Homo sapiens: one gene and its partners. The protein of the gene in region 4 interacts with the protein of the main gene of each other region in a biochemical or structural test. Each region holds a gene or a part of one and is shown on either strand. Other genes may lie near its edges.

Region 1 (4,152 bases), on a different chromosome or scaffold from region 4:
TTTTGGCTGGGAATGGCTCACACCTGTAATCCTGGCACTTTGGGAGGCCGAGGCGGGAGGATTGCTTGAGGCCAAGGGTTCAAGAGCAACCTGGCCAACATAGGGAGACCCTGTCTCTATTAAAAAAGAAGAGAAAAGAAAAGAAAAAAAAAATTTTACTTTTGAGAGACTTACGACTTACTCTGCCAGAGGCACCATAGGAAATATTCTTCTTCTTTTTTTTTTTTTTTTTTTTTTTTTTTTTTTTTTTGAGATGAAGTCTCACTCTGTCACCCAGGCTGGAGTGCAGTGGCATGATCTTGGCTCACTGCAACCTCTGATTCCCGGGTTCAAGTGATTCTCCTGTCTCAGCCTCCCGAGTAGCTGGAATTACAGATACCCGCCACCATGCCTGGCTAATTTTTGGATTTTTAGTAGAGATGAGGTTTCACCATGTTGGCCAGGCTGGTCTTGAACTCCTGATTTCAGGTGATCAGGTGATCCACCCACCTCAGCCTCCCAAAGTGCTGGGATTGCAGGCGTGAGCCACCGCTCCCAGCCCAGGAAATATTTTTACTAATTGTGTGACTTCAGGCAAGTTACAGAACCTCCAGAAACCTTAATTTCCTCATCAGTTATGGAAACAAGATGTACCTTATAAAGAATGTGTTAGCATTAAATGTGATTAAGTGATGGTACATTGCTTGACTCGGAGGTTCCATCCATGGTAATAATTGTAAGTACACTAATATATGTATATATACGTAATACACAAACAAATGTAATACAGTGTCTGTAGACATGCTAATATATGTATACAAGCGTAAGCATAGACGTATACCAAGGTCAAGCCTGTAGTCAGTTCTCAGTCCTCATCTGAGCTCATCAGCACAGGCTGTCCCTCCCTCCTTGACTCTCATCCTTTACTAGGTTTTGGGGACATTCTGCCCTCAGGGTCTTCCACACCTGCAAGGGCCCCTTCTCTTTTTCCTTTTTTCCCCTTTGCCCCAATCCCTAAATGCCACAGAGTTCAATCTTTGACCCCATTCTCTTTCCAATCAACAAGGGGCCTACCCAAGGTGAGAGCAGTGGGACCTGAGGCCCAAAAAGACTGGGCTGGAAAATGGAACAGGTCCCCCAGCATCCCAATGTGCCCGGAAAGGACGACACTCCAGGGGGAAACACCTCCTGCCACGCCCTGGTCTCCAGGGGTGAGCATCCAGGGTACTAGGGCAAGCTGGCTGCTCCCAAAGGCAAGATGGTGCCTCCTACAGGCAAGATGGCAGCCTCCACGGAGGAAGATGGCGGCTACCTTCCACCCACGACCCCGGTCAGCTGCTGCCCGGCCCACCTTGTGCCCACCTTGTGCCCACCTTGTGCGGCGTGTTGACCACAGAGAGGTTGTAGCCGTACTGGAAGGCTGAGCCAAAGGCCGCGCTCAGTGTCGCCAGCAACAGCGTCGGCTGGAGCCGCTGTAGGAGACAAGTCCAAGGTCGGGACGCTGTGGGCTTGGGCCTCGGGAAGTGGAGTGGCTGGGCCTCCACCTCCCTCCAGCCTGGGCTGGAAGTGGGGGATGGGGGATCCCAGGCCGTGCCCCCGGAAAAGAGGAGGAGGTGGCGCAGGGCTGGGGCTTTTGGGGGCTGAGGTCTCTGCACGCATTCATTCCCTCCTTGAGGATGTATCTGAGCATCTGCTACGTGCCTGGCCCTGTACTAGGCCCTGGAGGCCAAGTGTGAAGTAGGGGATGCTTTAGGAAAAAGGCCCAGCAAAGCACTGCCTTTAAGAAGCTCACTTTCTAGTGAGGGGAGCCCACCCCGTCCAAGAAAGACAAAGATGATAATTCCAAATAGCTAGAATGCTGTGAGGACAATAAAATAGGGTGATGGGTGGGGTAGCAGCCTGTGAGGAATGAGAGACTGTGTTCAGTAGGGTGGGCAGGGCAGGGAAGGCCTCTCTGAGCAGGCGCCCTTTGAGCCGGGACCAGAATGGATGAGAGGGAGCAGCTGTGTAAGCATCGGGGGGAAGAGCATCCCAGACAGAGGGACTCATTGCTTGCCTCTGCCTCTAGAACAGGCCCTTAGGAAAATCCCGGCAGTCGCCTGTGCTCAGGGCCAGGCTTTCCATGGTTGCCACAACACCCAGGGCAGCTTGGAGGGGAACTGGCCTGAGGGCCAAAGTCTGAGGAGCAGGTGGGCAGGGTCTCTGACCATGTCCTAGAGCCAAGGCCCTGGTGCATGCCCCCTCCCCACTGCCCCCTCCACCCCTCACTCCTGTTCCACATGTCCTCACCCCAACCCTCACACTTAGCTGCCTGGCTGCCCACAGCCCGTAGCTCTGCACATCCAGGAACAACCAGACAGAAGGGCAGGATTCGGGCATTCTTCAGAGGCCATCTCCCCTCGATCTTTAAGGGTAGGGGAAGCGGAGGGGAGCAGGGGTGGAAGGGAGAGAGGCATCTCCAGCACCATCCGCTCTCCCAGCATTCGCTCAGCCACCCTGGCCCATGTCTGAGCCATGAGGTTTGAGCATAGCTGCTTCTCCACATGGCTCTCCCAGGCCTGGTTATCCTGAAGAAAAAGGAAGCACGCTACCCGCTCCTTGCTAAAAGCATTCCACGGCCTTCACCTCCCTCCACAGGTCTGCACAGCTGGTGGGAGAGGGACAGTGACAGGTTCCTAGTCTTGGCACTTACCCCCTCCCTGGATGGAATGGGTGGAGGGGTTCCCGCCTCTTTGTTCTCCATCCTTGTTCAGGTGGGAGAACAGGTGTGCTCTACCTCCCAAGTGACACCTGCTCTGCGCCAGCCACCTAAAGACCGGCTGTTTCTCCCCTGGGCCTACCTGGCTTTATGATCCTTTTGCTCTCTGGACCCTGCTGACTTTCCCCAGGAGCAAATTCTCCTTGGAAATGTTGATAAGACACACGTTGCCAGTGCACAAATCATACACAGCACGAATTTCGTCTTTGCACCCACCAAGCCCCAAGCCGAAAGCTCCCTAGTTGCACCAAGGAGAGAGAAAAAACATTGCCTGACATTGGTCCGCAGAAATGAGGACTTTCAGAGACCCAGTGAGGCTGTGACCTGGATCTAGGATGCTTTTTCTGTGTCATTTTTCCATGTATGCCTCTTTTTTTTTTGAGACAGGGTCTTCCTTTGTTGCCCAGGCTGGAGTGCAGTGGCGCAATCTCAGCTCACTGCAACCTCGGCTTCCTGGGCTCAAGCTATTCTCCTGCCTTAGCTTCCCAAGTAGCCGGGATTATAGGCACGTGCCGCCACACCCAGCTTTTTTTTTTTTTTTTTTTTTTTTTTGAGGTGGAGTCTCGCTTTGTCGCCCAGGCTGGAGTGCGGTGGCGCAATCTCAGCTCACTGCAAGCTCTGCCTCCCGGGTTCACGCCATTCTCCTGTCTCAGCCTCCTGAGTAGCTGGGACCACAGGTGCCTGCCACCATGCCTGGCTAATTTTTTTTTTGTATTTTTAGTAGAGACGGGGTTTCACCGTGTTAGCCAGGATGGCCTGGATCTCCTGACTTCATGATCTGCCCGCCTCGGCCTCCCAAAGTGCTGGGATTACAGGCGTGAGCCACCGTACCCAGCCTTTTTTTGTGTGTTTTTAGTAGAGATGAGGTTTCACCATGTTGGCCAGGCTGGTCTAGAACTCCTGACCTCTAGTGATCCGCCTGCCTTGGCCTCCCAAAGTGCTGGGCTTACAGGCATGAGCCACCGCACCTGGCTTTTTTTTTTTTTTTAACTTTTATTTTAGGTTCAGGGTATATGTGAAGGTTTGTTACATAGGTAAACTCGTGCCACGGGGGTTTGTTGTACAGATTATTTCATCACCCAGGTATTAAGCCCACTTCCCAGTGTTTGTTTGCTGCTCCTCTCCCTCCTCCCACCCTCCAGCCGGAAGTAGATCCCAGTGTTTGCTGTTCCTTTCTGTGTGTTCCTAGGTTCTTCATATATGCCTCCTCTTGTGCATTTGGACTAATTGTCCATTTGGGGGAAAGAACAAATTAAACACTTTCAGAAAAACACAGTTATTATTTCTAATTACACTAAATAGTGTTAAATAAGTCAATAAAATATTGGACAAAGGTGCTTATTTCAGAATCATTTCTACTAGCATTTTTTTTTTAAAGTAGAGAATGATTGAATAAATTAGGAGTAACTAATTGA
Region 2 (3,248 bases), on a different chromosome or scaffold from region 4:
ACACCCACAAATGACCAACTTCTTTCAGGAACAGGGAAGTCAGAGAGGTGTCTGAGGGACTGTGCCTGCCAGATTCTCCCGTTGGGGCTGCCTGCCTCCCTGACTCCCCACCATTTTCTTCTCTACCAAACAGATCCTTGATCTTCAAACACACACACACACACACACACACACACACACACACACACACACACACCCTCTGGCTACAGCAGGGCTATGCCTGGCTCTCTCTGCCACCCTCATCCCTGTAGATGCATTTCCCTGTTGCTTGACTCTGCTTTAAGTGATCCAGTTCTACAGGCCACGCCATCCCCTAGTTCCCCAACTCCCAACCTGGGAAGGGGACAATGAGCTGACACCAGGGGCTCAGACCCAGTGGACTCCTCTGGGGAGGCAACTGTAGATGACAACTTCCAGGGAAGGATGACACAATCCCTGCCACCCACCCCAGAGAGCTTCCCTGGGAGGGAGGGAAAGAAGTGCCACACTGGGACAGGAAGTCAGTGAGTCATCCACGACTTTATTATCCACCAGTTTGATTTGTACAATCTTTGCGCTTAAATCCACGACAAAAAGGCCACAGTGTGATGCACCCAATTGACAGAGACCTGTCTTCTCCCCAGCCAGGCCCAGCCCACCCCACAAGCCCTTGTCCCCAGGACACATGGAGCCTTCCAGGTGCCCTACATGAGTCCCCCATCACTCTGTAGCTGTCCACCCTGGGGCCACACCTACAGGAATCACATCAGCCCCCAGGGCCACAAGAGACCTAGCTGACTGATTCAGGCTGAGCGCCATTGCCCATCCTCCTTGGGCTGATTCATTGGCCCAGAGCCTCCAGAACTGTGTCCCCAAAGGGCAGGTCATGGGCTACAACCCCAGTCCAGGAGTGCCTGCTCTCCAGGGACTCCTTCCGCTAAGCAGGCGCTGAGCAGAGCACCAAAGGGGGCTTGGGAGTGACTGCATGTGTGTGCCTGTCTAGGCAACCTAGAGTCTGTCTGTGCCTGACACCCTCTGACAGTTCCGGAGTGCAAACGTGTAGGTGTGAGGGTGTGTGTGTGTGTGTGTGTGTGTATAGCCACAGCTGCTAGCAGAAGTTCTAATTAGAGAAACAAGAACATTCAGTGTAAAGTTTAATTTTAGAGATTAATTAATTTTCTGGTTTTCATTTTCCCTGGCAATCAGTAAAGCTACCAAGAAAATAGACCAAAGAATTGGTTTCTCTCTAAGTCTGTGCATGTGTGGGAGATGAGGCTGTCTGAGACGACCTAGGCAGAAATGGTCAATACAGGCAAAAATAATAATAGAGGTCCCCCTTCCCCTCTTGTGAGACCAGGCTCTGTCTCAGGAACAGGCCTGAGGGAGGAGGAGCCACGTTCCTCCTTCCTTGGAGCCCTGAGGTGGCCAGGCTGTCCCCACACAAAGCATGACATCCAGGTGCCAGCTGGCTAAGAAATGGAGCCTGAGGCTGCAGCTCACCACCTGTACCTCACAGATGTCCATTCAGAGGAAAGAAGGGTGCTCCAAACGCCAGGCCCCCAAGGAGCACAGACTCAGGGTCCAGGCAGGTTCAGTGCTAGTAGGCAGGTGGGCACTGCTGTCCAGGAAAACCTGGTGGGCAGCTGTTTCCCCTGCCCAAGCCTCCCTCTCTCTAGCCTCTTCTCCCTCCTCACTCAGCCATCTCTACCTGAAAGTAAAGCTAAACCCTTTAGAAGCCATGGGCCATGGTATCCCCACAATTTGGGCCCCTCGCACTCCCCGCTAGGAAGAAGGGAAGGGGAGCCAGAGGCGATGTTGCATAGGTGGAGGCCACACAGTTGGTGGTGCAGGCCTGGCTGGGCTGAAGGAAGATGAGAGGGGCTGAAGGAGGGTAAGGAGGAGTTCTGATGGCTCAGGCGAAGTAAGAAGCATCAGGGGTGAGAGATGTGGGTGGCCCAAGGGTTATCCTCTCTAGCCTGAAATGTGAGCTCAATCCCTGGGTGCTAAATCTGCTGGGGAGACTTTAGCCAGGGGAGTTGGCAGGGCAGGAGGGCTGTTCACAGACATGCACACTGAAGCACATCAGGGTGGAGGTGGTGGGGGGAGCACACGGAGAGAAGGCGGTGTCAGAGCTTTAGGGGAACAGGACGTGGGGCCAGCGCCCTGGGGTGGTGGCAGGATGCCCCTTTGAAGACCCTGCGACACACAGCAGGGCTTCAGCTCATAGGATAGGGAAGGATGGAAGGGTTGGGCAAGATTTAGAGAATGCTTGCCTCTGACCCTGCCATTGGAATTATTTCTCCAGTTGGGGCTTGTGACAACGTCCTCAGTCCCCCAGAGATGTGTTTGAGCGACAAGCACACTCCACTCCTCCGCACAGGTTTAGGGAGGCAAAGGCCGCCCCCACAGACACCCCACCTCTGGAGGTCCTTTTCCTCTACCCTCCACTGCCCTCTCCTCTCTTACTCCCACCTGCTTCCAGAGGTCCCCGTTGCCACCCAGGTCTATGTCATGCTCTCTCCCCTTAGTCACTCGTGCTGGCCAGCTTTAACGAGTGCTGCCCGGGTGGCATCTCACTCTCTAAAAGGGGTATACACTCAGAACCCAGGTGAGGAGGCCCCTGTTGGGAGGCTGAGGAGTTTAGAGAGAGGACTGAGGTACACAGTCCTCCACATTTCACTCCCCTCCCCACTGCACCCTGGCAACAGCTCTGCAGGACTGGGGAGCGGAAGGTGAGTGATGTCTGTGCAGTGAGCACAGTCCCTCTGGACCTGGAGTGGGGGCCCAGTTAGATAAACAACAGTGGAGGGAGCGGCAGAAAGGAAACCCCAATCTTGGGGTCAGCGCCAAGAAGAGGGCAGCAACATTTCCACGGTGTTGGATGGAGGCCTAGGGCTGACACCTGGCCCCAGCCTCAGACCTGCTGAATGCATTAGCTAGTTGGAATCCAGCCTGCTGGTCACCAAACCATTGCCCCCTCCATAGAGAGAGGCCCCAGGGGAGTGAGGCCACGAAGGAAGGAAAGCCCCAAGTTCCCTTCTCCACAGCCTCTAAATCTCCCATCCGCATGCCAGGGCCTCTCCCTTCAGACAAGGCCCAACGCGGGGCCCACGGCACGGTTGTCATCTAACAGAAGATCTGTTGAAGGGCTGGACAGGAGGGAGGTGTCCCTTTAGGAACTCAGGGTTGGGGCTGGAAGAATGACTCTGCCAGGGGGATCTCGGGGAGCAGCCGACCCCCTCCCACCCATCGGTCTCTTTATGTACAGG
Region 3 (2,636 bases), on a different chromosome or scaffold from region 4:
CCAATTTAATACCAGGAAGGAAGAGAGGGGCACTAGAGTTGAAAAGGCAAGCAAGGGAGTGATTATAATATAATATAATATAATATAATATAATATAATATAATATAATGTAATATAAGCACAGTGAGAACATAAGGATGGTGAGTATCCAGGTTTCCCTGTCGTCCCTAAAAACGTACCAGGTAGGCAACTGCCGTTGATGAGTAAAGCTCTCCCTGTGTGACATTTGTCTTCCTTATATTAGTATGGCTTGGAGAGAGTTCTGGGGTGGTGATGCTTTGCAAAGAAAAATCATGAAGGAGATCATCAGAACACATCATTTGCCTGCTATCCAATATCTTGTTGGATCTGAACTGAAGGATTCATAAGACAGTTATTAATGGCTAATATTTCAAAAGAAGAGACTTTTCTTGTTAACATAATGTATCAATAAAAATATTTCTCAAAGTATTAAGCTTATCCAATGACAATGTTTTGCTTAGATAAATTGGGTCAGCATATATATTTTCTGCAACAGCTAATCAAAATATTTTAATAAGCATAAGAATTCCACATTAAAACACAGAACTGAGATTCCTACCTCAGTTATTTTTGCATCTAATCCATTATACTTGATACTACTTTGCATTAAAATGATAAATGCAACAATTTCTTGTATGTTATAGAAATAATATATACATAAAATAAAATATGAATATGTCACTCTTAATAGAGATACCTCAGTAATTTCTTAAAATTGCTTTTTTAGGTACTTAAGCATTGCCTATATGCATTTAAATGTCTGAAAGTAGTGTTTTCTAACAGGCAAAGATTTCATGATGAAGACACAAAAGGTGGTTGCAACGAAAGCAAAAATTGGCAAATGGGATCTAATTAAACTCTAGAGCTTTGTCAGAGCAAAGGAACCTATCAACAGAGTGAACAGACAACCTACAGATTGGGGGAAAATATTTGCAAACTATACATCTACAAAAGTCTAATATTCCAGCATCTATAAGAAACTTAAACAAATTTACAAGAAAAAAAAATCCCATTAAAAAGTGGGCAAAGGATATGAACAGACACTTTTCAAAAGAAAACATACATGCAGCCAACAATGATATGAAAAAAAGCCTCAATATCACTGATCATTAGAGAAACGCAAATCAAAACCATAATGAGATACCATCTCACACTAGTCAGAATGGCTATTATTAAAAAGCAAAAAAAAAAAAGCAGATGCTGGCGAAGTTATGGAGCAATTGGAACGCATATACACTGATACTGGGAGTGTAAATTAGTTCAGCCATGTGAGAGTGTGGCAATTCCTCAAAGACCTAAAAACAGAAATACCACTGGATCCAGCAATCCCATTAATGGGTATATACCCAAGAAATATAAATTGTTTTATTATAAAGATACATGCACACGTATGTTCAATGCAGCATTATTCACAGTAGCAAAGACATGGAATAAACCTAAATGCCCATCAACTGTAGACTGGATAAAGAAAATGTATGTATACACCATGAAGTACTATCCAGCCATATGAAAGAATGAGATCATGTCATTTGCAGGGACATGGATGGAGCTGGAGGCTATTATCCTTAGCAAACTAATGCAGGAAGAGAAAACCAAATACCACATGTTCTCACTTATAAGTGGGAGCTAAATGATGAGAGCACATGAACACATAGAGGGAAACAACACACATTGGGGCCTATCAGAGGGTGCTGGGTAGGAGGAGGGAGAGAATCAGGAAAAATAACTGGTGCTAGGTTTAATACCTGGGTGATGAAATAATCCGTGCAAAAAAACTCTCATGACACAAGATTACCTGTATAACAAACCCGCACATGTATCCCTGAACTTAAAATAACAGTTAAATTAACAAAGAAAGTGGCTAACACGGTGAAACCCCGTCTCTGCTAAAAATACAAAAAATTAGCCAGGCGTGGTGGCGGGCGCCTCTAGTCCCAGCTACTCGCGAGGTTGACGCAGGAGAATGGTGTGAACCCAAGAGGTGGAGCTTGCAGTGAGCCGAGATCGCGCCACTGGCACTCCAGCCTGGGCGACAGACGGACACTCCGTCTCAAAAAACCAAACCAAAACAAAACAAAGAAAGTAGTGTTCTCTAAATAGCTTAGAGAAAGACAATAATTCAATTATTTTATATTTTAAAAAATTAAATATTGTTTTATAACAATAATTCTTAGATGTTTAAAAAGTGTTTACTGTTTTAAAATAATGGGTTATAAAATTGGCAGAGTTCCTGCCTTGATTTTTTTACCTAAATGAAATTTGGTTTGCTTATATATACATTCATTGAATAAATAAAATGATATTTTATTTAACAGCAAAATTGAGTAAGCAATGATATTTTAAAACTTCTTTCTGAAGACCTACATCTTGACAACATTTATATAGCTAACAGCACATTTGTAGAGAAGATGTTTAGGATCCTCCATGATAAAAACATATATACATATGTATACACATAGTTTTTAATTTTTTTTATTTCCAACTACTATTTACTCTAAAGATAATATATTTTTAATCTAATAATGACTATAAGGTGTCACCACAGCCTTTTCTTAAAAGCACCATTCCACCTCTGAGAATAAGCTGATATTTTACTTAAGGCATATTGAACTTCT
Region 4 (3,500 bases):
TTTCCCTGGGCAACTCTGAAAGGGAAAAGCCAGTCTCTTTCCCAAGCACACTGGCTCAGTCCAGCCTCCAAACCTTTGCTTTATGTCCTCATCCTGGAAGGACTGTCACCCACCTCGAGTCCTTCTCAGGAAACCATGTCTCACCACTTAGGCTCAGGCCAACCTCCCCCAGCTCTGCCTGGCACAGCCTTGCTGTCAGGGATCAGAAATGTCAGGGACAGGGGTGCTCAGAGTCACCACCCACCTGACCGTTGCTCATCTGGTTCCGAGATGGTTCTGGAATCTACTGAACTTTCCCGCCGAAGCCGGGGACTCTCCCTGGTGGGGAACAGATTGGGAGTGAGGCAGGGATGGATTTCAAGGGGCCATTTTAAAAAGAATTTTAGGCCGGGCACGGTGGTTCATGCCTGTAATCCTAGCATTTTGGGAGGTCGAGGTGGGCAGATCACCTGAGGTCAGGATTTCAAGACCAGCCTGGCCAACGAGGTTAAACCCCGTCTCTCCAAAAATACAAAAATTAGCCGGGCATGATGGTGGGCGCCTGTAATCCCAGCTACTCAGGAGGCTAAGGCAGGAGAATTGCTTGAACCCGGGAGGCAGAGGTTGCAGTGAGCCAAGATCATGCCACTGCACTCCAGCCTGGGCGACAGAGTGAGACCTTGTCTCCAAAAAAATAAATAAATAAATAAACAAAATAAAAATAATTTTAATTTATCTGGGCTGGGCGTGGTGGCTCACGCCTGTAATACCAGCACTTTGGGAGGCTGAGGCAGGCCAAATGCTTGAGCCCAGGAGTTCAAGACCAGCCTGGGCAACATAGCTGGGCAATACAGACCCCATCTCTACCAAAAATATGAAAATTAGCCAGTCTCACATGACTCAGTCTCAAAACAAATAAATAAATAGAGGAAAAAGAAATTTTTTTTTTTAAGACAGAGTTTTGCTCTGGTTGCCTAGGCTGCAGTGTAATGACACGATCTCGGCTCACTGCAACCTCCATTTCCTGGGTTCAAGTGATTCTCCTGCCTCAGCCTCCCAAGTAGCTGAGCTTACAGGCACCCGGCACCACGCCGGGCTAATTTTGGTATCTTAGTAGAGACAGGGTTTCACCACGTTGGCCAGGCTGTTCTCGAACTCCTAACCTCAGATGATCCACCCTCCTCGGCCTCCCAAAGTGCTGAGATTACAGGCGTGAGCCACCGCACCTGGCCTAAGGCAGAGTTTGATACTAAGAAGTGGGGTGCTGCTGTAACCAACACCTACAAATGCGGACACGGCTTTGGAACTGGGTAATGGGTAGAGGCTGGAGGTATTTTGAGGCACATGCTAGAAATACAGGACTGCGTCCTCAAGGTTACCCCCAGTTGGAAAGCTACGCCCGCGTTCCCCTCTCCCTCCCACCTCCCTCTCCCTCCCTATCACCATTCTGGCCGATGGGTGATACTTACACGGGAGAGTCGGTCTGGCTGGCCTCGGGGCTCCGCTGAGCATGCCGGGGTGGTGGTGGGATGTGGGATGGTGGTGCCTGCGATAGCTCCGAGGCGAGGTCCGAGATGTCTGCAGGGGGAGAGGACATCTCATCAGCCATGGTCACGCCTTCTGGACTGGACCCATTTTACAGAGGGGTATATCAACACCCCTCTAAACAAAGGGCCCTAGACCAAAGTCAGAAGCTCAGTTAGAAGATTCGGCTCTGGAGCTGGGCACGGTGGCTCACGCCTATAATCCCAGCTACTCAGGAGGCCAAGGCACGAGAATCGCTCGAACCCAGGAGGCAGAGAATCGCTTGAACCCAGTGAGCCGAGATCGCCCCCCTGAACTCTTGACTTGCTGTGTGGCCTTCAGCAAGTTCCTGTCACTCTCTGAGCCTCTAGGGACCAGGCTCATTGATTCCTTGGCCCTGCCTGGGGCTTCCCACCTTCCCTGCCATCCATTCAACCCCCTCCCAGGTCCTAACCTCTAGGTCCTCACCCTCCAATGGCGAGCTGTCGCTGTCACTGACAGCAGGCGGAATGTTCACCAGGAACTGCCCACGATCTCTCAGCACCAGCAGGCTTAGCTTCCCTTCTGACTTCTCAATCAGTCGCCGGGTGTCGTTCAGTGACAGGTTCTGGCTAGACACCCCGTTGATCTGAAAGGGACCAGGAATGAAAGAGCGGAAGTGAGTTAATGAGAGATGGGAGACAGTAGAAACAGCCTGGTGTGGGGGAACTTGAAACAGACAATTCCCCCAGAGGTTGCTAAAAACAGCCACTCCCTAAGGAAAGTGTTGAATTGGATTCCTGCTGTGAGTGGAGACCACACCAAGAACTGAGCACCGAATTCTAGAAACAGAAAATGTTCTAAGAGGGGTGGGAGACACTGGGGAAAATGAGAAACAGGTTGACTCTCCTTTCTTACCAAAAGTGGAAATGTCTCAGGGGATACTAGGAACAGATGTGAGGGTGACATTATAAACAACTCTAACTGGAGAAGAGGGAGTATCAGATACTTAAAAGATACTAGAAACACACAATCTTCTGGGAGATAACTAGAAACAGATATCTAGAGTGGGGCGCGGTGGCTCACGCCTGTAATGCCAGCACTTTGGGAGGCAGAGGCAGACAGATCAGTTGAGGTCAGGAGTTCAAGACCAGCCTGGCCATCATGGTGAAACCCTGTCTCTACTAAAAATACAAAAATTAGCAGGGCGTGGTGGTGGGCGCCTGTGGTCCCAGCTACTCAGGAGACTGAGACAGGAGAATCACTTGAACCCGGGAGGTGGAGGTTGCAGTGAGCCAAGATCCCGCCACTGCACTCCAGCCTGGGTGACAGAGCGACACTCCATATCAAAAAGAAAGAAAAGAAAAGAAAAAAGAGAAGAGAAAAGAAAAGAGAAAAGAAAACAGTCATCTAGAGGTAGATTAGAAACACACAATTCCTAGAAAGAACTTAATGTCGGCCGGGTGTGGTGGCTCATGCCTGTAATCCCAGCACTTTGGGAGGCCGAGGCGGATGGATCACCTGAGGTCGGGAGTTCGAGACCAGCCTGACCAAGATGGAGAAACCCCGTCTCTACTAAAAATACAAAAAATTAGCAAGGTGTGGTGGTGCACGCCTGTAATCCCAGCACGTTGGGAGGCCGAGCGGGGGGGATCACCTGAGGTCAGGAGTTCGAGACCAGCCTGGCCAACATGGAGAAACCCGTCTTTTCTAAAAATACAAACATTAGCTGGGTGTGGTGGCGGGCACCTGTAATCCCAGCTACTCGGGAGGCTAAGGCAGGAGAATCACCTGAACCTGGGAGGCGGAGGTTGCAGTGAGCCGAGATTGCGCCACTGCACTCCAGCCTGGGTGACAGAGCGAGACTCTGTCTGAAAAAAAAAAAAAGAAACAGATAACTTTTTGAAGACACTGGAAATAATCAGCTGAAAGCAATTTGGAAATCAAACACTAGGAGTCACTAGAAACAGACTTTCAGGGGAAGAATCCAGAAAGATACCATCCTTTAGGGCAGGGCA
Region 5 (3,500 bases), on a different chromosome or scaffold from region 4:
CATGGCTCTGCCCCTCTCCATGGGGCCTTGTTCCCTACCTGGGCTCTCCAGCCCAGTAGACACAACCTCCTCCACGTTGCTGCCGTTGAGGTTGGCACGGAGGATCCGGTCCAGGGTGACATCTGACCAGAAGACAAGCTCGCGGCGGTGGTGGAAATCAAGGGCAATGGCATTCTCCAGGTTGTTAAGCAGCAGTGTGTACTCAGAGCGGTGTGGCAGCACCTGCCGGATGTCGATGCGATTGGCGAACAGCAGCACAGGCTCTGGCCCTGGGAAACAGTATAAACATGGGATACCCACTGGGTTTCAGAGCCGCCCCTGGTACCCATCAGCAGGTCTTCAGCTGACCGATGGAGCCACTTGCTCACAAGGACATGCCCCAAGCTGTCAGCATCAGTACCAGAAGAGTGGCAACCTTTAAACTATATTCCTCCACCCCTCCCCACCCCACTCCACCCCAGCAGCATTTTTCTTGGGGCTCAGAATGCAACTGTTGCTGCATTTTACTGTGACAGAAATCTCTCTACCTCTCTGCAAATCCCTGAGCACCAGAGTACCTGGCCTTCCTCCATGCTCGGCCCTCTGCCCACCCAGCCAAGTGCCAACAGCCCTTACCCAGAGCCTTGCAGCTGCGCCGGTCGGGCCGTAGTTCATAGCCTGTTTCACACCAGCATTGGAAAGCCCCTTCGCTGTTGGTGCAGCCCTGGCTGCAATACCCCTCCTCGGCACATTCATTCACATCTGGGAACACCAGGCAGGTCAAGAGATCTCCCTTCTGTCGTCCTCCCACTCCCGCTCCCAGGCTGCCGAGCTGCTTTTCTGCCCACATCCCCATCTACTTTCCAGGCCTAGTGGGAAGGCTGTCTAAGAAATGGTTAAGGGCGGCCGGGCGTGGTGGCGCACACCTGTAGTCCCAGCTACTCAAGAGGCTGAGGCAGGAGAATGGCTTGAACCCAGGAGGCGGAGGCTGCAGTGAGCCGAGATCGCACCACTGCACTCCAGCCTGGGCGACAGAGCGAGGCTCCATCTCAAAAAAATAAAAATAAAAAATAAAAAAGAAGAAATGGTTAAGGGCTTTAAGGTCATGCAGACCTGGGCTGGAATCCCAACTCTGCTACTCGCCAGCTGTGTGGCCTTTGGTAAGCTACTTATCCTCTCTGTGCTTCAGTCTCCCCATCTGTGAAATGGGAAGGATGATCCCCACCTCCTAGGGTTATTGTGAGGACGAAATGAGGTCACACCGTTCAAATGCCTGACCCATAGGAAACACAGCTGCCTGTCTGCTGCCCCTGCTCAGAACCCCGACTCTGCTGCAAACCAGGCCCCAGCTCACCTTGGCACGTGTGCCCATCCTCTGTGAGCCGGTAGCCTGTGTGGCAGGTACACTGCACTGCCCCCCGCACCATCTGGCACTTCTGGGCACAGCCACCGTTGTTAACATTGCAGTTCTCCTCACCCGTCCGGGGCCCTGTGCCAGCCAAGCCAGAGTTGGGAGTTGAGCCCAGAATCCTCCCCCAGAGAGCCAACTTGGCATTCCACCTGGACCACAAAGAACAGCTCCCAAAGCTGCAAGAGTCCTGAGGGAGGATTCCCTTTGAACCCTATGGGTGGGGTTCGGCCACAAACCATGGGCCAGGTCCGCCCACTGGGGACACTCACGGCAATTCTGCTGTGGGCTTTCGTCGCTGTTGTCACCACAGTCGTTGACCCCGTTGCACAGCTTCCTCTGCCCAATGCAGCGCCCATTCCAACACAGGAACTGGTCCAAGGCACATTGGGGGCTTCCTAGAGAGATGGAGGGTCAGGTCATAGCAAGGCAGGGCTTGGGCCAACAAAGAGATGGGAGCCTGTCATTTTCTAGGGTAAGCTGGAGACAGATGAGACTCAAGGTGGGAGGGTGAGGGTCCTGGGCAGGAAGCAGCTCAGACAGGGCTGGCTGAATGTCTGCATTTGCTTTCTCCCCAGGACTCCACAGTGGGATGGTGAGGAATATGGAACAGAATGAAAAAGTGCAACCACATGCTCAATACTGGGTGTGGCCAGGGGAGCACACATGGGGGCTGCCAGATGGAGGGTAGTCCTTCCTCACTAGACCAGAGCTAAAGGCACTGGCTGTGTGTGAGTTAGAATAGGAGTGGCAATTGAAACTCGCAGCTCTGATACTGTGCTCCAGGCCATAAGGCCGCAGGTCAATGATGCACCTGGATTTTACACTGGTAAAACCTCAACCCAACTGGAAAGATACCAAAGCACCCTCTTTTCCACCCTTCCACCCCAACTATAGGCTAAGGGTTCTGGGGCACCCCGGGAGACACCACCTGTATTCTCACAGTTCTCTTCATCGCTGTTGTCTGCACAGTCGTCCTCCCCATCACAGCGCCAGGACAGGCGGACACAGCGGCCTGAGTGACAGCGGAACTGTTCTGCCGTACACATGGAGGTGGCTGGGCAAAGCAAAGGCTTAATGAAAGGTGGGCCCCATTTCAGCCTGAAATTCTCCCTGCCACCCAAATCTGCAGCTTATATCAGTACCCATGCCACTCTTGACACCGGGATCACAGCTGGTCTATATAGTGTCTTTGTGTGAATCAGAAAAAAGTATCCTTTCCTCAAGACACTTTACTGCCATCTGCTGGAAAACTGCCATGATGAGTATATAAATCTATTATGTGACTGGCTTCCCTTTGGACATATTGCCTCTGCACAGTGCACAACCTACACAACTGTACATGGTGGTGGTCTTACCCAGTGTCTTCAAGATTTATGGGTAGTGGCCTGTTTGTCTTTTTTTTTTTTTCTTTTTATTTTTTTATTTTTATTTTTTTTTATTTTTTAATTTTTTTATTATCATTCTTGGGTGTTTCTCGCAGAGGGGGATTTGGCAGGGTCATAGGACAATAGTGGAGGGAAGGTCAGCAGATAAACAAGTGAACAAAGGTCTCTGGTTTTCCTAGGCAGAGGACCCTGCGGCCTTCCGCAGTGTTTGTGTCCCTGGGTACTTGAGATTAGGGAGTGGTGATGACTCTTAACGAGCATGCGGCCTTCAAGCATCTGTTTAACAAAGCACATCTTGCACCGCCCTTAATCCATTTAACCCTGAGTGGACACAGCACATGTTTCAGAGAGCACAGGGTTGGGGGTAAGGTCACAGATCAACAGGATCCCAAGGCAGAAGAATTTTTCTTAGTACAGAACAAAATGAAAAGTCTCCCATGTATACTTCTTTCTACACAGACACGGCAACCATCCGATTTCTCAATCTTTTCCCCACCTTTCCCTCCTTTCTATTCCACAAAACCGCCATTGTCATCATGGCCCGTTCTCAATGAGCTGTTGGGTACACCTCCCAGACGGGGTGGTGGCCTGGCAGAGGGGCTCCTCACTTCCCAGTAGGGGCGGCCGGGCAGAGGCGCCCCTCACCTCCCGGACGGGGCGGCTGGCCGGGCGGGGGGCTGACCCCCCAACCTCCCTCCCGGACGGGGCGGCTGGCCGGGCGGGGG
Region 6 (3,500 bases), on a different chromosome or scaffold from region 4:
GAGGGAGTCACCTAGTGCCCCTCTTCCAGGCTGGACAGACATCAATCCTACTGCTAGGCTGGATAGATGCCTATTCACCTTACTACTTGTAGGGGTCTCAGGCCTCTAGGCAGTTATGGATTCTCCTGGCGTGAGCAGGTAGAGGTGGTGGGATTGCCTGTTTTATGCAGTGTCCTAACCTTGGCCCACCACCCTGCCCTACAATACCATGAGGTCTCTGGAGCTCTTTCTGACTTGGAGGCCTTCCCTCTTTCTGTGCTGAACTACCATTGGCCTTTGGAGTATTCTGTACAGTCCAACTGCACTTAGGGCAGGAGGGATTTCCCCCACCCAGTTTCCCCTGAACTAGTCCCAAGACCAAAAAAGAATTACTTCAGAGGCCAGTGCCACTCCAGGACAGTGAGCAAAGGGGAGGGGAGAGGTTACAGGGCACTGAACTGGATACTAGTCATATTCAATGGGAGAATATCCCAGTTATAAAGACAGTTTCACATGGCTTGCATATGAAGCATATCAACTACATTATCTGGGGTGCTCCACTTGGCATTTTATAGGGATGGTTGGGAAGTCCCATTTCCAGAGTAAACAGACCTTACAGTAGCAATTATCCAGTCAGTTAGGCAGGTTGTTCTCTTATGAATAACCTCGTATACATTTGGATCACATATACTCATCAGCAATTTAATAGTGATTTGTGAATCCTGCATCAACCCAAACAAGCTCTTTCATTTTGTAGCCTTCAAAATAAAGGATTCTTTCCTTAAAGTAGTTAAGGTTTCTCAAGAAGCTGATTATATTGATCTACAAAATGGAACAATTACTTTGCATTATACCCTCTGGTTTTAATAGTTACTTGGTTTTGCCCTTCCCACATATTGACTATCTTCTTGGTAACCACAGCTCTCAGAGGTAACTTTTGTTGCTCTGGTTTAATTTTTCTTTCTGTGGGTAGCTTGGAGTCTAGTGGCTTGAGCTGGGACAGACCCACCTCTGGGCCTGATCCAGCCTTAAGGATCAACCCAGCATTCTTGTACATTCATTTAGCAATTACAGATAACAATAACCAAGGGATTGAATATTTTTGCTTTTTTTTTTTTTATTAGTTTGCATCTCCTTATGCATTTAGAGAGCTAACTCCTCGGGAGCATAATCCATCTCTAAATTCTAATGAATTTTATCTTTTGTAATTGAATGTAGCTCAGCTGCATCTCCCTACCATAGGTAACCACATGGCCACCCTGGAGTCAAGGTTTCTCCTCACTCATCTTTTAATTTCTCTCTTTATCCATTTAGTTTTATCTATATAATATTTTTATCTTTACTTAAAATAACTCTTAGAAAAAAAAATTCTTTAGCAAAAGCTACATCATTGTATTTTTATAAATTTTACCAAAAACACTATTTACTCTCCTACTATTTTAACTCTTAGTAACCCAGATTCCCATTGAAAAAAATAGGAGTTATTTAATTTAACATAACATGACTTTAAGATGTTAAACTACTGGAGGTAATTTTGAGATTAAATTTACCAGATTAGTCTTACCCAAAACTACTAAGGTCATATGAATTAAAAGGCATCTTTGGTAGCTTCCTTCAGTCTGAAAAGCACTTATTTTTCTTTTAGCCAAGTGATTAGAGGTCTTTAATATAATTTGGTAGTGAAATATTACTTCTACATGACACATATAAACATATAGCTATAACAGACATACAGACAAAAGCAGATCCAAAATATTTTTCATTTGCCTATTTTCAAAAATTCTGTTTCTTAGTTTCAACTATTAACTTAAAAAGGCCAGACACCATGGCTCATGCCTGTAATCCTAGCACTTTGGGAGACTAAGGCAGACAGATCATTTTAGTCTAGGTGTTCGAGACCAGCCTGGGCAACATGTGACACTCCATCTCTATAAATAATACAAAATAAATAAATAAATAAATAAAAAAGCTTGGCTTTGTGGTGCACACTTGTAGTTCCAGCTACTCAGAAGGCTGAGGGGAGGATTTCTTGAGCCTGGGAGGTTGAGGGTGCAGTGAACTGAGATTGTGCCACTGCACTCCAGCCTGGGTGACAGAGTGAGGCCCTGCCTCAAAAAAAATAAAATAAAAGTAAAAAGTTACAGGAGCCAAACAAAGTTGAAGGAGAGAGTTACCATTCCAGGCCTTCTCAAAAGAGAAAAAAACTGAAGCAGTAGGGCACAGGTTCTGAGATATCAATCTAAATAATTTTAAAAAGAAAAAGATTATAGAATTCAAAAATTTTAAAGTCCTTGCATTAAGAGTAACTCAACATTTTTAATAAATCTTGTTCTAACCAGTTCTTTAGTGTTGCATGAGTGTACTTTTAATATCAAAGTTCAATTTTTAGAAAAACTATTATAATTTCCTTTAATTGTAGCCAACTGAATCACATAACATTTTAACAAATTCCTGTTTTACTAACCTTATTACAACTTACACAGACCATTTACAACATGCTTGGACTTTCTGGTTTGACATAAATATTTCTCTTTCTTGAACGAGTCATTTTATCTTAGGACAAAAATTCATCATGCAAGATTCTTTCTCATATAAAATTACTTTTCTTTTAAGCTTTCTTACCAAAAATACCTCTTTATAACTTTCTTTACATCTCTTATTTCCTGGTCCTTTTTACCTCATTTTATATATAATCCTTAAATAACCTCTGAATTAGACAAAAATAATTTACCTTTGAATAAGAACACTTTAGACCTTAAGAAGAATCTGCCCATGACTCTTGAAACTCCACAGAGAAAGAAAGGGTGAGTGATGCCTTTGTTCTGAGTGTTTTAAGGGGTTCAAGTCATTTGATGGCTTCTCTAGATTTTTTTTGGTACCAGACAGTGAAGGGGGAAGGAGAAATAGTGTGGAAGAAAAGAAAATGAAAGAACAATTGTGTTTTTAAGACAGGAAGCTGCAACAGAAACCAAGCGCATAATTTGTTTGTTTTCTTTTTTTCAGTTATGAGGAATTTTAGCAGCTTCAGAGGTCTGGCTGCTCATAATTTGGAATTCTCATTTGAATTTGGCCAAGTTGGGTACAGTTGGTCAAATCTGATGGGAGAAACACCAGAACAACAAAAAACCCCAACAATATGATTACTGAGCACTCTAATGCTAAGGAGAAATTAAGACTAGCCGGCTGTCAATTCTAATTTTTAGTCATTAAGGAGAATCGCTGAGATAAAAAAAAAAACCCAACTCAGCTACTTATCTAGGAATGAGACCCTGGCTCAAGACTGCTGTTTACCATCTTACAGGCAGGAAAAAAAAAGCTCAAACTTGCCTTCCCTGTTGGAAATTAGCTGAAACTCCAGAAAGGAGTTGCCCACGCTCCATTGTCATGGAAGCAGGAAAACTTGCCTTCTTTGTTGGACACAAGTAAAACTAAAAAATAGGAGTTGTAGAGAAAAATAAATTTTAGATCTTAACCAAATTTAGGGGATTGGGGATTCTCTGGAGTGGGTGGGGGCTCCCAGG
Region 7 (3,500 bases), on a different chromosome or scaffold from region 4:
GCATTGTTGCAGTAATAATTTGAAAGGAATCTTTTTTCTGAGCAATGGGCTTAAAATATTCAGTCAACCATGCTATAAACAGATGTACTATCATCCAGGCTTTTTTGTTCATTTACAGAGCATAGGCAGAGTAGATTTAGCATAATTCCTAAGGGCTCTAGGATTTTGAGAATGGTAAATGACCTCATCCTAAAGTCACCAGCTGCATTAGTCCCCAACAAGAGTCAGCTTGTCGTTTGAAGCTTTGACGCCAGGCATTGACTTCTCTAGCTACGAATGTCCTGGACGGCATCTTCCAATGTAAGGCTGTTTTGTCAGCATTGAAAATCTGTGGTTTAGTGTAGCCACCTTCATCGATGATCTTATGTAGATCTTCTGGATAACGTGCTGCAGCTTCTATATTAGCATTTGCTGCTTCACTGTGTACTATTATATTAAGAAGATGGCTTCTTTCCTTAAAGCTCATGAACTAACCACGGCTAGCTTCAGACTTTTCTTCTGCATCTCACCTCTCTCAGCCTTCATATAATTGAAGAGAGTTAGGGCATTGCTCTGGATTAAGCTTTGACTTAAGGGAATACAGTTTGATCTAATCCAGACCAGTAAAACTCTGTATTATCAGCAATAAGTCTGTCTTGCTTTCATATCATTTATGTGTTCAGTGGAGTAGCACTATTAGTTTTCTTCAAGAACTGCACTGGTGCAAGAGGCCTAGCTTTTGACCTGTATCCGTTTTTAACATGCCTTCCTGACTTCCTTAGAAGCTTAATCCTTTCTAGCTTCTGATTTAAAGTGAGAGACATGAGACTCTTCCTTTCACTTGTATACTTAGGGGCCATTGTCGGGTTATTCATTAGCTTAATTTCAATATTGTTGTGTCTCAGGAGTAGGAATATCCAAAGAGAGGGAGAAAGACTTGGGGAGCAGCTGGTCAGTGGAACACTCAGGACAGAAACAGCATTTCTTTTTTTTTAATTAATTTATATTAAAGACAGGGTCTTGCTCTGTTTCCCAGGCTGGAGTGGAGTGGTGCAGACATACCTTATTGCAGCCTTGAACTCCTGGGCCCAAGCGATTCTTCTCCCTCCGCTTCCCAAGTAGCTAGGACTATAGGCACATGACTCCATGCCTGGCTAATTTTTTATTTTTTGTACAAATGGAGGTCTCACTATGTTGCCCAGACTGGTCTTGAACTCCTGGCCTCAGGTGATCCTCTCACCTCAGCCCAGCATGCTGGGATTGCAGATGTGAGCCACTGCACCCAGCCCAGATTTTTTATATATTGTGTTGTCAGTGGTAAAGATGATAGAGAATGTCTCATTCTGCTGATAGGAGTATAAATTGATACAACCACTTAGGAAAGAATCAAGGAATATCTGGTAATATTGAAAAACCCCACAGTTTTTAATCACATTCACAAAGGTATTCTTTATAAAGACTGGAAACGATCTAAGTGTCCATCTTTAGGGAAATGGGTAAAGTATGACAGAGTCATGATGAGACCACTATACAGCCATTACGGAATGAACTAGATCCATACGTCAACATAGCACAACTGAAGGGCAAAATAGAGTGTGAACAAGCAAGTTTCAAGATTTCTTTAAGGTATTTTAATTTTTTAAGCAGAAAAATACTATGTAGTGCTTATGATTGTGGTTTCCAGAGTGGGAGAGAGTGAGGGAATTGGTCTTGGAAGGGTACGAAAAGATCTTCAACTTTATTTGCCATTTTAAAAAATTGTGGTCAAATGTATATAACATAAAATTTATATATATATATATATATATATATATATATATATATATATATTTTAGACAGTCTCGCTGTGTCGCCCAGGCTGGAGTGCAGTGGCATGATCTTGGCTCACTGTAACCTCCGCCTCTTGGGTTCAAGCGATTCTCCTGCCTCAGCCTCCGTGGTAGCTGGGATTACAGGCGTGCGCCACCATGCTTGGCTAATTTTTGTATTTTCAGTAGAGACCATGGTTTCACCCTGTTGGCCAGGCTGGTCTCAAACTCCTGACCTCAAGTGATCCGCCCACCTCGGCCTCCCAAAGTGCTGGGATTACAGGTGTGAGCCACTGCGCCCGGCCCAAATTTATCATTTTCTTAAGTGTGCAGTTAAGTGGCATTCAGCAACCATCACCAACATTCAGCTCCGGAACTTTTCTATCTTCTCCCACCTGAAATTCTGTACCTGTTAAACAATGGCTGCTCATTCTCCCCTCCCCTCAGCCTTTGGCAACTGCCATTCTCTTTTCAGTCTCTACAAATTTGACTACTCCAGGTACCTCATAAGTAGAATCATACAATATTTGTCCCTTTGTGACTGGCTTATTATCCTTAGCATAATGTCCTCAGGGTTCATCTGTGTTGTAACATGTGACCAGATTTCACTCCTTTTAAGGTTGAATTATTTGCTGGTTTTTAAAAAAATTTTGAATTTTAGTTGGTTAATATGTGGAGTTTTGTTATATTATTGTTCGCACCTTTTATACTTCAGAAATTTTCTTTCCAAAGGAATTGGTTGATAGAAGATTATAAGGGAAAGCTTACTATCCTGATTCAGATGATTTACTCTAGTTTATTTTCCGATTCAGTGTGACCGCAACAAGGGAAAACATGGCTTATACTGTGGAATGCCTGCGGGGTGATGTGTAAGTACCTGTGTGTGTTTAGGACTTCTGCTTTGAAAGAAATACTAAGCTGCTCACTTCTGGTCTTTGTAATGCGTCATTATGACCTCTGACTTCCATTTTGGATTATTGTTCATAAACTGCTCAAAAACACTGCTTACCACAAGACCTAAAGTTTCACATTGAGAGCATTACAGCTATGTAGAATCTCAAATGTTGGCTTTACATTTTTGACTCATAATTCTTATCTCGATGTCTTCTGTAGTGATATTCTAATGGAGTTCCTGCTCAATGTCACCACAGCACCAGAATTTCGTCGTTGGGAAGTAGCTGACCTTCAGCCTCAGCTAAAGATTGACAAAGCTGTGGCCTTTCAGAATCCGCAGACTCGTAAGTACATTTCCAGATCACATTTGATTCTAAGATACTGGGTTTTTTAGAAGATCAATTTATAGAAGAAAAAAAATTGCTGTCAAAATTTTTATTTTTATTTTTATTTATTTATTGTTTTGAGACAGAGTCTCACTCTGTCACCCAGGCTGGAGTGCAGTGGCACGATCTTGGCTCACTGCAACCTCCAGCTCCCGGGTTCAAGCAATTCTCCTGCCTCAGCCTCCTGAGCAGCTGGAATTATAGGTGTGCACCACCACACCTGGCTAATTTTTTGTATTTTTAGTAGAAACAGGGTTTTGCCATGTTGGTCAGACTGGAGTTCAGTCTTGAATTCCTGGCCTCAAGTGATCCACCCACCTCAGCCTCCCAAAGTGCTGGTGTTACAGGTGTGAGCCACCATGCCTGGCCAAATGTTTTACTCCTTGAATTTGAAAATATCTTTTTCAAAAATTTGTTATTTAGATTTATTATT

What was found.
Region 1: the proteins of TJP3 (region 4) and SLC2A7 interact in a test that uses a peptide from one of them, tested with the Homo sapiens proteins (one large-scale study listed by IntAct).
Region 2: the proteins of TJP3 (region 4) and TMEM151B interact in a test that uses a peptide from one of them, tested with the Homo sapiens proteins (one large-scale study listed by IntAct).
Region 3: the proteins of TJP3 (region 4) and KCNV1 interact in a test that uses a peptide from one of them, tested with the Homo sapiens proteins (one large-scale study listed by IntAct).
Region 5: the proteins of TJP3 (region 4) and LRP4 interact in a test that uses a peptide from one of them, tested with the Homo sapiens proteins (one large-scale study listed by IntAct).
Region 6: the proteins of TJP3 (region 4) and SLCO1A2 interact in a test that uses a peptide from one of them, tested with the Homo sapiens proteins (one large-scale study listed by IntAct).
Region 7: the proteins of TJP3 (region 4) and UQCRC2 interact in a test that uses a peptide from one of them, tested with the Homo sapiens proteins (one large-scale study listed by IntAct).

What each region holds. Positions count from the first base shown.
Region 1 is NC_000001.11:9,023,624-9,027,775, forward strand, and holds the start of SLC2A7 (solute carrier family 2, facilitated glucose transporter member 7), read right to left. Parts: upstream 2,801-4,152; 5' UTR 2,723-2,800; coding exon 2,672-2,722; intron 1,452-2,671; coding exon 1,353-1,451; intron 1-1,352. UniProt on the Homo sapiens protein: Probable sugar transporter. Even if its physiological substrate is subject to discussion, it is able to transport glucose and fructose. Does not transport galactose, 2-deoxy-d-glucose and xylose.
Region 2 is NC_000006.12:44,276,697-44,279,944, reverse strand, and holds the end of TMEM151B (transmembrane protein 151B), read right to left. Parts: 3' UTR 501-3,248; downstream 1-500.
Region 3 is NC_000008.11:109,963,136-109,965,771, forward strand, and holds the end of KCNV1 (potassium voltage-gated channel subfamily V member 1), read right to left. Parts: 3' UTR 501-2,636; downstream 1-500. UniProt on the Homo sapiens protein: Potassium channel subunit that does not form functional channels by itself. Modulates KCNB1 and KCNB2 channel activity by shifting the threshold for inactivation to more negative values and by slowing the rate of inactivation.
Region 4 is NC_000019.10:3,732,384-3,735,883, reverse strand, and holds part of TJP3 (tight junction protein ZO-3), read right to left. Parts: intron 2,132-3,500; coding exon 1,972-2,131; intron 1,558-1,971; coding exon 1,449-1,557; intron 319-1,448; coding exon 245-318; intron 16-244; coding exon 1-15. UniProt on the Homo sapiens protein: TJP1, TJP2, and TJP3 are closely related scaffolding proteins that link tight junction (TJ) transmembrane proteins such as claudins, junctional adhesion molecules, and occludin to the actin cytoskeleton.
Region 5 is NC_000011.10:46,894,551-46,898,050, forward strand, and holds part of LRP4 (low-density lipoprotein receptor-related protein 4 precursor), read right to left. Parts: intron 2,445-3,500; coding exon 2,319-2,444; intron 1,786-2,318; coding exon 1,660-1,785; intron 1,469-1,659; coding exon 1,334-1,468; intron 742-1,333; coding exon 616-741; intron 270-615; coding exon 39-269; intron 1-38. UniProt on the Homo sapiens protein: Mediates SOST-dependent inhibition of bone formation. Functions as a specific facilitator of SOST-mediated inhibition of Wnt signaling.
Region 6 is NC_000012.12:21,328,418-21,331,917, forward strand, and holds part of SLCO1A2 (solute carrier organic anion transporter family member 1A2), read right to left. Parts: intron 1-3,500. UniProt on the Homo sapiens protein: Na(+)-independent transporter that mediates the cellular uptake of a broad range of organic anions such as the endogenous bile salts cholate and deoxycholate, either in their unconjugated or conjugated forms (taurocholate and glycocholate), at the plasmam membrane.
Region 7 is NC_000016.10:21,959,861-21,963,360, forward strand, and holds part of UQCRC2 (cytochrome b-c1 complex subunit 2, mitochondrial precursor), read left to right. Parts: intron 1-2,599; coding exon 2,600-2,656; intron 2,657-2,900; coding exon 2,901-3,025; intron 3,026-3,500. UniProt on the Homo sapiens protein: Component of the ubiquinol-cytochrome c oxidoreductase, a multisubunit transmembrane complex that is part of the mitochondrial electron transport chain which drives oxidative phosphorylation.